Linked DNA regions of Homo sapiens. The protein of the gene in region 1 binds, or shares a complex with, the protein of each later gene. Links are inferred from orthologs where the notes say so. Each region holds a gene or a part of one and is shown on either strand. Other genes may lie near its edges.

The links.
Region 2: the proteins of NUMB (region 1) and YWHAH are in contact, whole or in part, in a crystal structure (PDB 5YQG), measured with the Mus musculus proteins. The link is inferred for Homo sapiens from one-to-one orthologs. Residues at the interface, in NP_001129547.1 of Mus musculus: Gln274, Gly275, Ser276, Phe277; in NP_035868.1 of Mus musculus: Arg57, Arg132, Tyr133, Leu177, Asn178, Val181, Glu185, Ile222, Leu225, Asn229.

Annotation. Positions count from the first base shown.
Region 1 is NC_000014.9:73,455,254-73,462,990, forward strand, and holds the start of NUMB (protein numb homolog), read right to left. Parts: upstream 3,294-7,737; 5' UTR 3,240-3,293; intron 2,481-3,239; exon of another isoform or gene 2,376-2,480; intron 1-2,375. UniProt on the Homo sapiens protein: Regulates clathrin-mediated receptor endocytosis. Plays a role in the process of neurogenesis.
Region 2 is NC_000022.11:31,954,509-31,958,103, reverse strand, and holds the end of YWHAH (14-3-3 protein eta), read right to left. Parts: intron 1,966-3,595; coding exon 1,312-1,965; 3' UTR 501-1,311; downstream 1-500. UniProt on the Homo sapiens protein: Adapter protein implicated in the regulation of a large spectrum of both general and specialized signaling pathways. Binds to a large number of partners, usually by recognition of a phosphoserine or phosphothreonine motif.

The DNA.
Region 1 (7,737 bases):
GATTAAAGATTTTAAAGAAAGCTGCAAGGATCTCTTTCAGTTTTCAATACTGCTTCCTGTTCTTAACAGCCATAAAAACAGATCTAAATCAACTCCTAAATATAAACCATCTAGCTTTCAATGGAAGAAAAATCAAACCACGTACAGATAAAACATACATATTCTTTTTAAAAACACGCTGTAAATTACATTTAGGTTCCTCAAACAAGTTAAGTTTACAACATGTACCACATCCAGTTTATTCTCAAGGGAGAAAACCATTAAACAAAAGCTCCCTCTTAATAAATGATTTACTTTGTAGTTAAGCCTCTATCCCAGGTGCATTTTGCTGTCACATATTACCACTATTTCTTTTCTCTACAAAGACCTAGAAACTGTATATCTAGTTCCTTTAAAAATATCTGTATATGTTTTATATTAGTGTAAGGATAAGAAATACTTAATATTTTTACTCTCTAAAAAGGAAATATCTTTTCATTTTTCTCTTTTGCAGTGTTTCTTACTTTGTTTTTGCTTATTTTCTATACATGAAATTTTCTCAAGTCAGTCCATTTCAGTGTTGTTTACTGTCAATATGTCTGTGTATACTCAGGCTTTTACAAACAATGCTTTACGGTACAGTGATAAAAAAGAAAGGGTGAACAAGAGGGCACAAGTGAAACAAAAGCGGACAACATCTGAGAAACACCATTCAATTTCTCTGCCTCAGATTCCCTTAAGTTCTCATGCCAAAGATTCTCAATATCCAAAAAAGTTCCAGAGTCAGAGGCATAACACAATATGTGACAAGACAAACACAGGAGGAACCAAATCAGAAACTGAAGAAATTTAATGGAATATAATACTCCCAAAAAAACCTTTTTTTTTTTTTTTAAGATGGAGTTTCACTCTTGTTGCCCAGACTGGAATGCAATGGCATGATCTCGGCTCACTGCAACCTCCACCTCCGGGGTTCAAGCAATTCTCCAGCCTCAGCCTTCCAAGTAGCTGGGATTACAGGCACGCGCCACCACGCCCAGCTAATTTTGTATTTTTTTTAAAGATGGGGGTCTCACCATGTTGGTCAGGCTGATCTTGAACTCCTGACCTCAAGTGATCCGCCCGCCTTGGCCTCCCAAAGTGCTGGGATTATAGGCGTGAGCCACCGCACCCAGCTTTCAGACTTTTTTAACTGTAAGAAATATATTTTATCCTTTGGCCAGGAACTCAAAAAAAGAAATACACTTTACATTGTGACCTAGTACATACATGTAGGAGAAAAGTTTCCCAAAACAATACTTTTCCTTACCAAATGCAATGTCAGTTTATTCTGTTCTACATTTTATTTTCAATGCAGGTAAAAACTCACAACATTGATTTTATAAATTACTAATAAATCACAATCCACAGTTTGAAAAACACAGGCTAAAAATGAGTATCCTTTATAATAGGATCTTTTAGGCAATTTGCCTCTACCTGTCTCTTTAGCAGGTATTTTAAAGTTGCTACCATTATTACCGGTTTCATTAAAGTAAGTGGTTCTTAAAGTGTGGTCCTCTGACCAACGTGATCATCATTTGAGATAAATATAAATTATTGGGCCCCACCCCAGACCTACTGAAACCCCCAGGTGGGGCCAAGCAATCTACATTTTACCAAGCCCTCCAGGTGATTTTGATGCAAGCTAACATCTGCGAGCCAGGTCTTTACCTTCTATTTAAGAAGTCAGGTCTTTATCGTCTATTGAACAATCCAGTACACACGACTATGTGCCAGTCACTATCCTAAAAGCTCTACAAATACCAACTCACATGAAAAAAAAAACACCACCACCACCTTATAAAGTAGGAACTATTACTATTAGTATTCTGATGAGGAAACTGCACAGAAACTTAGCTAAGTGGTGGAACTAGAACTCAAAACTTCTTTTCACTTTAGCCGAGTATGCCTACCCTCTTTCTGATAAGTATTTACTTCTACTCCTTTAGTTCAGCTACTCCTCCCCTTTTCCCTCCCAAATTCCCCACCCTGTCAATGAACCTATTTCCTAATATTACTGCCATCATCCTAAAACAAATTTCTTTTCTAAAACAAGTCACTTAACCTTGCTTTTAGGAGCTTTGCTTTGGTCCTAGATGTCATCTTGATATTAATTACGAAACTGAAGTTTCTTCTATTTGTGAAGACCTGTGAACCTACATGGCTCCACTGTTAATTTCTCATATATCTACTGTCCTAGCCAGTTCCACGAAACCATTACTCTCTCCTCGGGCAACTTTCTTTCTCTACCTTATCCCCTCCTATAGGGATTCTCTCCCACCTCCGCCCATCTCCGTCCCATTTTGCATGACTCCTCTCCGACCGAGGGAACTTCCACTCCCCTGCTGGCTCCTCACCCCGGTCTCAAACGCGAGCCACTCCTCGAGGACTTCTTTCCTGGTCCCTTAGGGATCCTCAGAGCCGGAGCGGCCAGGCCAGTTGGGTCTCCCATCCCAGCTCAGCTATGGGGGCGCAGGGAGCTCCGGTTCTTCCCCCAGGCGGTGCAAGATCTCTACTCGTCCGACCCTCCGAAGACCTGCTGCTCCTCATCTCTCCAGGAGCCCCCTCCCTTGGACAGCCGCTTTTCTCAGGAGGGTCCCCAACCCCCTCCGAGCGTTTCCTCAGACGCCCCTACTTGGAGCAAGTCTGCTCCCTGTCACCCGGGACCCTGGCCACCCTCGGCCTTCCTACCTCCCTCGGACCGGGGCCACTCCCAGTTCCCCTGCCCCCCACCCCGCTCTCTCCTCACCGGCCGCTGCCGGGCTTCCCGGATTCCTTTTCTCCCTGGCACCCAAGCCGTCCTGGGTATTCCCAAGACACCCCGCCCTTGAAGCAGGTCGTTACAGGTCACCCCCTCTCTGGGACCCTGGCCGCTTCCGTTTCCTCAGATACCTACTCCTCACACAGTGGCCGCCGGTCAGCGCGCTAGACCGGAGCAGCTGGACGTCCCAAGGGACCTCCTGGCCTGACCCGCGCGGGTCCGGCCGTAGCCTACCTTCCTCGGGAGAACTCCGCAGCCAGAAGCCCAGCCCCTCTCCCCCTAGCCCAGTCAGCGCGAACTCGCCGCCGCCCCCGCCGCCTCCGCCCTGGCCCCGGCCCCGGCCCGGGCCCCGACCCGAAGTCCAGGCCCCCTTCCTCCGGCCTCCGCCTCCGGAGTGCTGAGCTGGAGATTCCGCCCCGCGACGGCCCCCAGATCTCTGACCCGCGTTACCGGCACTCACCTGCCGCTGCCCCCGACCAACTCAAGCGCCACTGCCTCTACCTCGGCCGCCAGTGGCCACCAAGCGCCACCACCTCCCCCATGACAACAGGCCCACCCTCTTTCATACTTCTAACCTATCCATTGGATAGTGGGGCGGCAGCTCTCCTCTCTGATTGGTTTAGTATACCCGCCCGTCATCGCTCTTTACCGCCCCTTTTCCTAAACCCGGTATTCGCCCCCGCCCGGACCTGGAGCGTCCTAGCCCAAGCTTTAGTTGTAATTGGTTGAGGGTTGGGCAATTCGAAGTTATGATAGGCTGCTAAAAGTGTCTGTTAAGCTAACTGGCAAGAGACGTGACGGTTAAGGTTGATTCACGCTTGTGCACAGTTTGGTTGCGCAGTAGAAAGCAAAGGAGGGGCAGACGCTCACATTCGTGGTTACCCGGGAAGGGTTAAGTCTTTGTTGTAGAGTTTTCTCTGTAAACTTTTCCACTTCTCCAGCTCACTTCCTGCAAGGAGAAGCTTATCTCTGCTAGCTTTATTCATAGGGGTAGTACTTACAAAACACCAACATTAGAGGTTGTGTTTAAGAAGTGTTTCCAAGCCCTGGGGAGAAAGGTATCAGAGAGATAAAAATGTCCCCTTCTTTTCTTTGGTCTCAATGCATCCAATTTCATTGAAGTTCTTTCCAGGAGCCTCAATGCTAAAGGGCAAAGCGCAAACTTTCATTTAGCAGAAATCAGTCAACTTCGGTTGCAATTATAAATGTCGTCAATAAACTGAAGTGGCGTATTGAGAGTTCTCCAGCTTCCAGATCCACTCCTGGCTGACCCCTGCCAATTGACCAGACAGCCATTAGCAACTTTTTTTTTTTTTTTTTTTTTCTGTGAGACGGAGTTTCTCTCTTGTTGCCCAGGCTGGAGTGCAATGGTGCTATCTCGGCTCATCGCAACCTACGCCTCCCAGGTTCAAGCGATTCTTCTGCCTTAGCCTCCCGAGTAGCTGGGATTATAGGCATGAGACGGGGTTTCTCCATGTTGGTCAGGCTAGTCTCGAACTCCCAACCTCAGGTGATCCGCCCGCCTCGGCCTCCCAAAGTGCTGGTATTACAGGCGTAAGCCACCGCGCCCGGCCAGCAACTTTCTAATAAGCGGGCCACATTATACCCTTTATGATGCTCTGGAAATGAGAATTCTGCTTTCCCCCACCTCTCACTGCCACTTTGTTTTTCTGTTCAGCAGTTCTTAAATAGCCCTACTAGCTGTGTGTCAGATACTTTAAAAGCTTCTCTCTCTCTCTCTCTTTTTTTTTTCTAAACCTCTTCCTAGCAGTCTAAATTAGGGCCATTGAATGAATTGCCGGGTTGTGTGTGTGTGTGTTTTTTTTTTTTCCTCACTTGGCACAATGCACAAGAATAAATGATTGCATTTTTTATTCACTTGGGTACAAATCACAGTAGGCATTTTTGAGAAATCTAATGTTGCTATAAAAACTCTTGTGCTCCTAGAAATATATTCATCATTAGCTTTTTGTTTTTCCTTTTTTTTCACCCACTTTTCCTGCTCCTAAATAACAAAATGCTGGTCTGATTACTCTTTCAGTTTCTAAATCAGATTTAAATGTACTTTCTCACAACCCCACCTATGATACATATACCCATGGGCCATGAAACAACACCCAGGGATAGTTTAAGACACTGTCAGGCCGTGCGGTGGCTCATGCCTGTTATCCCAGCACTCTGGGAGGCCGAGCCGGGCAGATCACCTGAGGTCAGGAGTTTGAGACCAGCCTGACTAACATGGTGAAACCCCTGTCTCTGCAGATGGTGCCACTGCACTCCAGCCTGGGCAACAGAGTGAGACTCTGTCTTAAAAAAAAAAAAAAAAAAAGACACTGTCAAGGAGGCATTCACCTCAAGGATGTGGACTTTGGAAATGTGCTTTGTCTCTTTCTTCTTTCTGCTAACCCTTTGTCTCATATTTCTTCTATTTACTAACCTCCTTGTTCTTTGCAGAGCAAGCTACAAAGAGTCTAAAACTGTATGGTTTATTATTCAGAAAAATATTGTCTTTTTTCTAGCCTATATTTTTAGTCAAGTTTAAATAAAGTACATACTTCTATCACCAGACTAAGCAGAAATTATTCCTCCAGTAACTATACATAACAATAAAGTGCCTTTTCCTAGTTATTTTCCGGAACTTTCCTCCCCCTCCTCTCTTCCTCACCTTCCAATTTAGAAATAACCTCCCATTCAATTCAATGACTCACAAAAAGCCTGTGAAAGGAAAGTGGAAAAGCCAAAATAACTTAGAGATGTCTGAATCATTCAGCTGAAGGAAAGATCAGACATTGACCATGATAAGATAGACGCCAAGACATAAGGCAAGCCTGAGCTAACATCCCATAACATGTGAAGTAATGCAAATGTGAAGATGCCCCAAGAAAAAGCAAATACCAATATGTCCTTTTACACAGCCTTTTAATATATCACCAGCAGCTTGCTTCTCTCTAGTCTTGGCAGTGTGCCATGCTACCAATTTTAGAGCAAGTTAGAAGACAATTAATGTCCTGACAGATAGGAAACAATAACGTCATAGGAGGACATGACCATTATTATGGTACTTTGGGTAATAATGGCTCTTGCACAGCCATAGTGACTAGGTGCCATAGAAAACATAGAATTAGGCCAGCCTTGCTAAGAGGACTTGCCATCTAAGTTGAAGAATGCAGCGAAATTACTATCACAAAACTGGGTGGAAAATTGTCACAAAAGTCAGCCGCTATTTCATACACTAAAAAAAAAAAAAAAAAGAAAGCATGTATAAATGCTTTTGCTCATATACACACATCTATCATTCCTATTCTTTGTGAATATCAGTTAAGAAAGGACATATAAAATAAATATGTTACAACCCAGTAAGTAGTGGGAAAACCTTAAGGAAGGTTTCAAGGAACATGCCTTGAAATAACAGAAGGCTATTGTGTTATCAAAGACTGTGCAGTACCGGAGGGGTTATTGCTTGTATCCCTACATTTTGCTTTCACGTGCACAAGGTAACCCTATCATGTAATTACTCCATCCAGCTTTTTTCTTTTCTTTCCTGTGTTTTTTGCTTCTCTACCATTCTCAGGGCTCCCTCTCAGAAAACAAGAACACTGGAGTCTGGGAGTCTGCAGCTTCCTGTTGCATGGCTGGCTGTGGAGGTCCTGCAGATGGTATCTGTTCAGAGCCACTTGGGCACGACCAAGATGGCAGGTACATTCGGGGCAAAAATAGCATTTATAATCCCAATTAAGCAGAAAATAGAGGACTCAGAGTGATGTCCAATATCTGAGGAGTGATATAGTGTGCCTTGGGCTTTCCTGTACACTAATGCTGTTTCTCCTGCTCTTTCATAATGTCACTTTTCAAGGGAAAAGAATCCAAGTCTCTTTCCATTTCTATTTTAGCCCACAGGGGCAATCTCACTAGGGAAAGGATCCATTTTTTGCTTTTGGATTTTCTTCCTCTGGATTCTACACACGATTCCAATTCCAACTAGATTAGAGAAATAAACAACCGGTGGAGAAGAAAATCGCTCAGATAGCAGACAAGGGCCAGAACTGCCTGCCACTAGCAGTTGGAGGCAAGCCAAAATATTTGATAAGAGGTAGCTTCCTGAGTTAGGGATCCCTGAGGGTGGAGGCTGACAAAGATGAAGGGATTAGAGAGAAGGGGAGGGAAAAGGAGGGAAGAGGAGGAGATGAGGGGGCAGGAGAGAAAAGGGTAAGAAAAGCTAGAAAAACAGTCAAAAAACCCAATCAGAGTGCTGAGCCAGCTTACAGTCCTGCCTTGCCTACCCCCTATCCCCACCCATGTGGACTTTACACTAGGTTGCATAATTACACCAGCAAAGTGCAGCCTCTGCCACTGGTTAAAAGGGAAAGCGTGCCAGGCTCCAGCCTATGGGACCGTTGTTCTGCTGCCACCTGGAAATCCTCCCAGAGCTCAAAGCCTGCTGCTCTGGGCAAAGCTGACAAGGAAGGACAGATTCAGCAGCCAACCAAGGAGCATACCTTCATTTGATTTCCTTAAGGCAAAAGCACTGGCTAAACAAAGGGAGACTATCTGGGAGAAGGTGTTTTCACCCTTTCAAGCTGGGGTGCTTTCACCACCGGGAAGTGCCACGCTGCTTTCCACGCTGGAACAAGGTACTGTGGTTTCAAAGTTCAAGGCTCTGTTTCAGGGATGGGAAGGAAAAAAAAATCAGTGAAAGAAGGTGTTCTGGTCTCTCAGGCAGAACCATTTGTTATTTGATTCCAGAGCTCATGTAATTTTTAAATACCACACTATGCATTTTCATTACTAAATGCATTCATTTTCATCCTCAAGAAAAGTGTATGCCCCCTTCCGCCTGCTTTACATAATATGGCTTGAGCGCTTGTAAAAATGGATGGGCTGTAGCTCTGAGTTCTGCCATTGTGCTATTGACTGGAGCTCCTGGTTACTATCACCAGATCTATGGGTGGATCAGCCAT
Region 2 (3,595 bases), on another chromosome or scaffold:
GTGTTTAAGGGGTAGGTTAGGCTTTTTAACTCAATGAGGTTTGCTTTTCTATTTTAAAGAATACTAAATGCTTAACAATAATCACTAAAGATTTCAGGGGTGCAAGTTGTGCCCCTAGTATCTTATTACATTAAGAAAACTTGAGGACGTGTATAAGCTCCGTATTTACCTTCAGTGTTAAATACACTCTCAAGTTCAACAGAGCCCACAATGTTTCAGAGGTGCTATACTGTGGAAGACTGCATTTTGTTCTGCGAGGCTCATTAAAAAGCACCAGTTATCAGGAAAATTGATCAGAGAGGCTATGTTAGCTGGGTTCACAGAAAACTATTTAAAATCTATGAATCCTATGTGTGTGCTGCAAAATATGTAATGTAATGAGAGGGGAGGAAAACTTGGATAATGTACTACAAATGCTTCCATGTTTGAGAGATTCAAACCACAATTTGTGACTGGTTAAACAGTTCCTCGAGGGGGGAAAAATCAAGACCAAACAGAGATAATATCCCCAAAGCAGCATTTATTTACCCATTGAATTCCAAAACATTTATTTTAGAAGTCTGGCATTTCATAATCACCCATCTTGATTGACATGGGCTGACACACATGGCGCTGTCAGGATACACAAGGACAATAGCCAAAGAGTTACAAAAAATAAATCCATGATTCTTAAACAATTGCAACCAAAAAAAAAAAAAAGTTACAAGTATCAAAACTTTCAGATGCATTGCATTGAAAAGAAGGTTTGTGCACGTCATAATTTAAAGAGGCAAAACCAAGGAGCTACTGAAACCTCACGTTAAACAGTTTATTATAAAGCTGATGGAAAGGAGCAAGTTGTCTCTCTGTATCAGCTTCCCTTAACAGTTTTCCATTAATTGAAGAAAGAGGTGGGAGGGGTGAATTCATTTTTGCATGCACAAGATGTACTGCTTAACGAAACACTATCAGCTTGTTTTAAATGGATCTTTTAAATATCAACTGTAGCCTGGTTGGCTAATTCTTTCTAATCTTCCCCATTACTTTCGCCTAGATTTCCCATAGATCAACAGGCATAGTAAAATGCCTCATCAGAACACACTTCTCCACACAATTCAAAAAGGGAGCTCCTGTGGGCTCAAAGCAACCATCAGTCCAGCAATGCCCATGATTTATCTGAAACTGCTTCCCAAGAGACAGGAGTGCAGATCTGAGTAGCTGTGCTGCCAATACAGATAGGTTTAGCACTAGATATTTAGTGATTGTGGCAAGGAAGAATCGGTGATGATGGGGGTGGTGGGTGAAGGAAGGGCCAGGGGACCTGAAGGATCTTCAGTTGCCTTCTCCTGCTTCTTCATCCTGCTGGTCGCTCGTCCAGAGGGTGAGGTTGTCTCGCAGCAACTGCATGATCAGCGTGGAGTCCTTATAGGAATCCTCGTTTAGTGTGTCCAGCTCAGCTATGGCATCATCGAAGGCTTGTTTGGCTAAGAGGCAGGCTTGCTCAGGTGCATTCTGGATCTCATAGTAGAACACGGAGAAGTTGAGGGCCAGGCCCAGCCGGATGGGATGCGTGGGTTGCATCTGCTCTTTGCTGATTTCAAAGGCTTCCTTGTAGGCAGCTTCAGAAGCTTCGACCACACTGTTTTTCTTCTCCCCAGAAGCGACCTCTGCTAAGTAGCGGTAGTAATCACCCTTCATTTTCAGGTAAAACACCTTGCTCTCATACTGGAAATCATTGCAGTTCTTGATCAGGAACTTGTCAAGCAGAGACAGGACATCATTGCAAACTGTCTCCAGCTCCTTCTCAATCTTCTCCCGGTAAGCTTTAACTTTCTCCAATTTCTTTTCGTTTCCATCAGCCATGGTTTTCTGCTCAATGCTGCTAATGACCCTCCAGGAAGATCGCCTGGCACCAACCACATTCTTGTAGGCCACAGAGAGGAGATTTCGATCTTCATTGGAGAGAGGTTCATTCAGCTCTGTCACCTGCAAAACCCCAAAAAGATAAACATTGAAAGCAAAATCTGAAAATCTTGGTAAGAAGCCTTCCCTTCAACATAATCAACAATCCTTCTCAAGAACGGAATTACGAACAGGTCAGTCACTCTGGAGAATAAAAACCACCCATGGATAAAACCAATATAGACATGAACCCTATGTGAAGAAAGACTATAGTCTAACAGAAGAGATAAATACTTGGCACCCAAAACAGAAAATCATAGGGGCTTGAGAAATTCATAATTCGGGTCTGATAAGATGTTGCTTTCACCTTGGTAGAGGAATGGGACTAAGGATAATTATGAAAAGGTTGTACAGCAGCAGTACATAATGGTGAAGAAGAAAACCTCGAGCTTCAGCCATTCTGCAAAAGATACTCTGAACAGGCCGGGCGCGATGGCTTATGCCTGTAATCCCAGCACTTCAGGAGGCCAAGGGCGGGCAGATCATGAGGTCAAGAGATCGAGACCATTCTGGCCAACATGGTGAAACCCCATCTCTACTAAAAATACAAAAATTAGCTGGGCGTGGTGGCACGCGCTTGTAGTCCCAGCTACTTGGGAGGCTGAGGCAAGAGAAACTCTTGAACCCGGAGGTTGCAGTGAGCCCAGATCGTGCCACTGCACTCCAGCCTAGCTAGCGACAGAGCAAGCCTCCGTCTCAAAAGAAAAAAAAAAAAAAAAAAAAGATACTCTGAACAGTAAGATCGTACGGTCCCTTTGTCAAATGTTCAAAGACAACAGACTGGAAGTGTTCCAGACTCTGCTTCCAGCTTTATACTCTGGAAAGAACCAACCACTCCTCAAATACACATTAACAGATGGTGGGGCTTCACAGATCAGATGGAACATCACACAGATCCAGTGGCCAGAGCTTCGCCCTGTGTGGCTACACATGGAACCCTAACTGATACTCCCAGCCCTCTCCCAAACCAAAATGAAGAACAATTCATAAGTGACATGAAAGTACCCCCAGCTCCTAGTGAAAGGAAGCACAGCTACTCAGCAGGAAGTTGTACTCTGACCTACCTCACAGGAAACTCTGGTCATCAAGGATGGAAGCATCAATTATTTTAAGTGGAAGAGTTAAATTTCACAAGCTTTAACTTCCCTTAGTTCTCCATGATGCCAACTACAAGTGAACTAGCTATGCAGTTAGTAGGAAGAGCATTATTAGACTTTGCAGTGGTTGAACTGTATCCCCCGCCAAAAGATACGCTGAAGTTCTGACCCTAGGTTCCTGTGAATGTGAGCTTATTTGGAAATAGGGTCTTTGCAGATGTAATTAGTTAAGATGAAGTCATACTGGACATTAGGGTGTGCCCTAAGTGCAATTACAGGTGTCCTTATAAGGATAGTGAGATTTTGACACACACACAGGAAGAATGCCATGTGACAGTGGAGGCAAAGACTGGAGTGACGCATCTACAAGCCAAGGAACACCAAGGGTTGCCAGAAGCCACCAGAAGCTGGGAGAGTGCCTAGGAAGGATTCTTCCCTAGAGCCTTCAGAGGGAGCGTGGCCTGCCTACACCTCACTTTCAAACTTCTAGCGTCCAGAACTATGAGAGAATACATTTATTATTTTAAACTATCCAGTTTGTCGTACTAGGTTCAGCA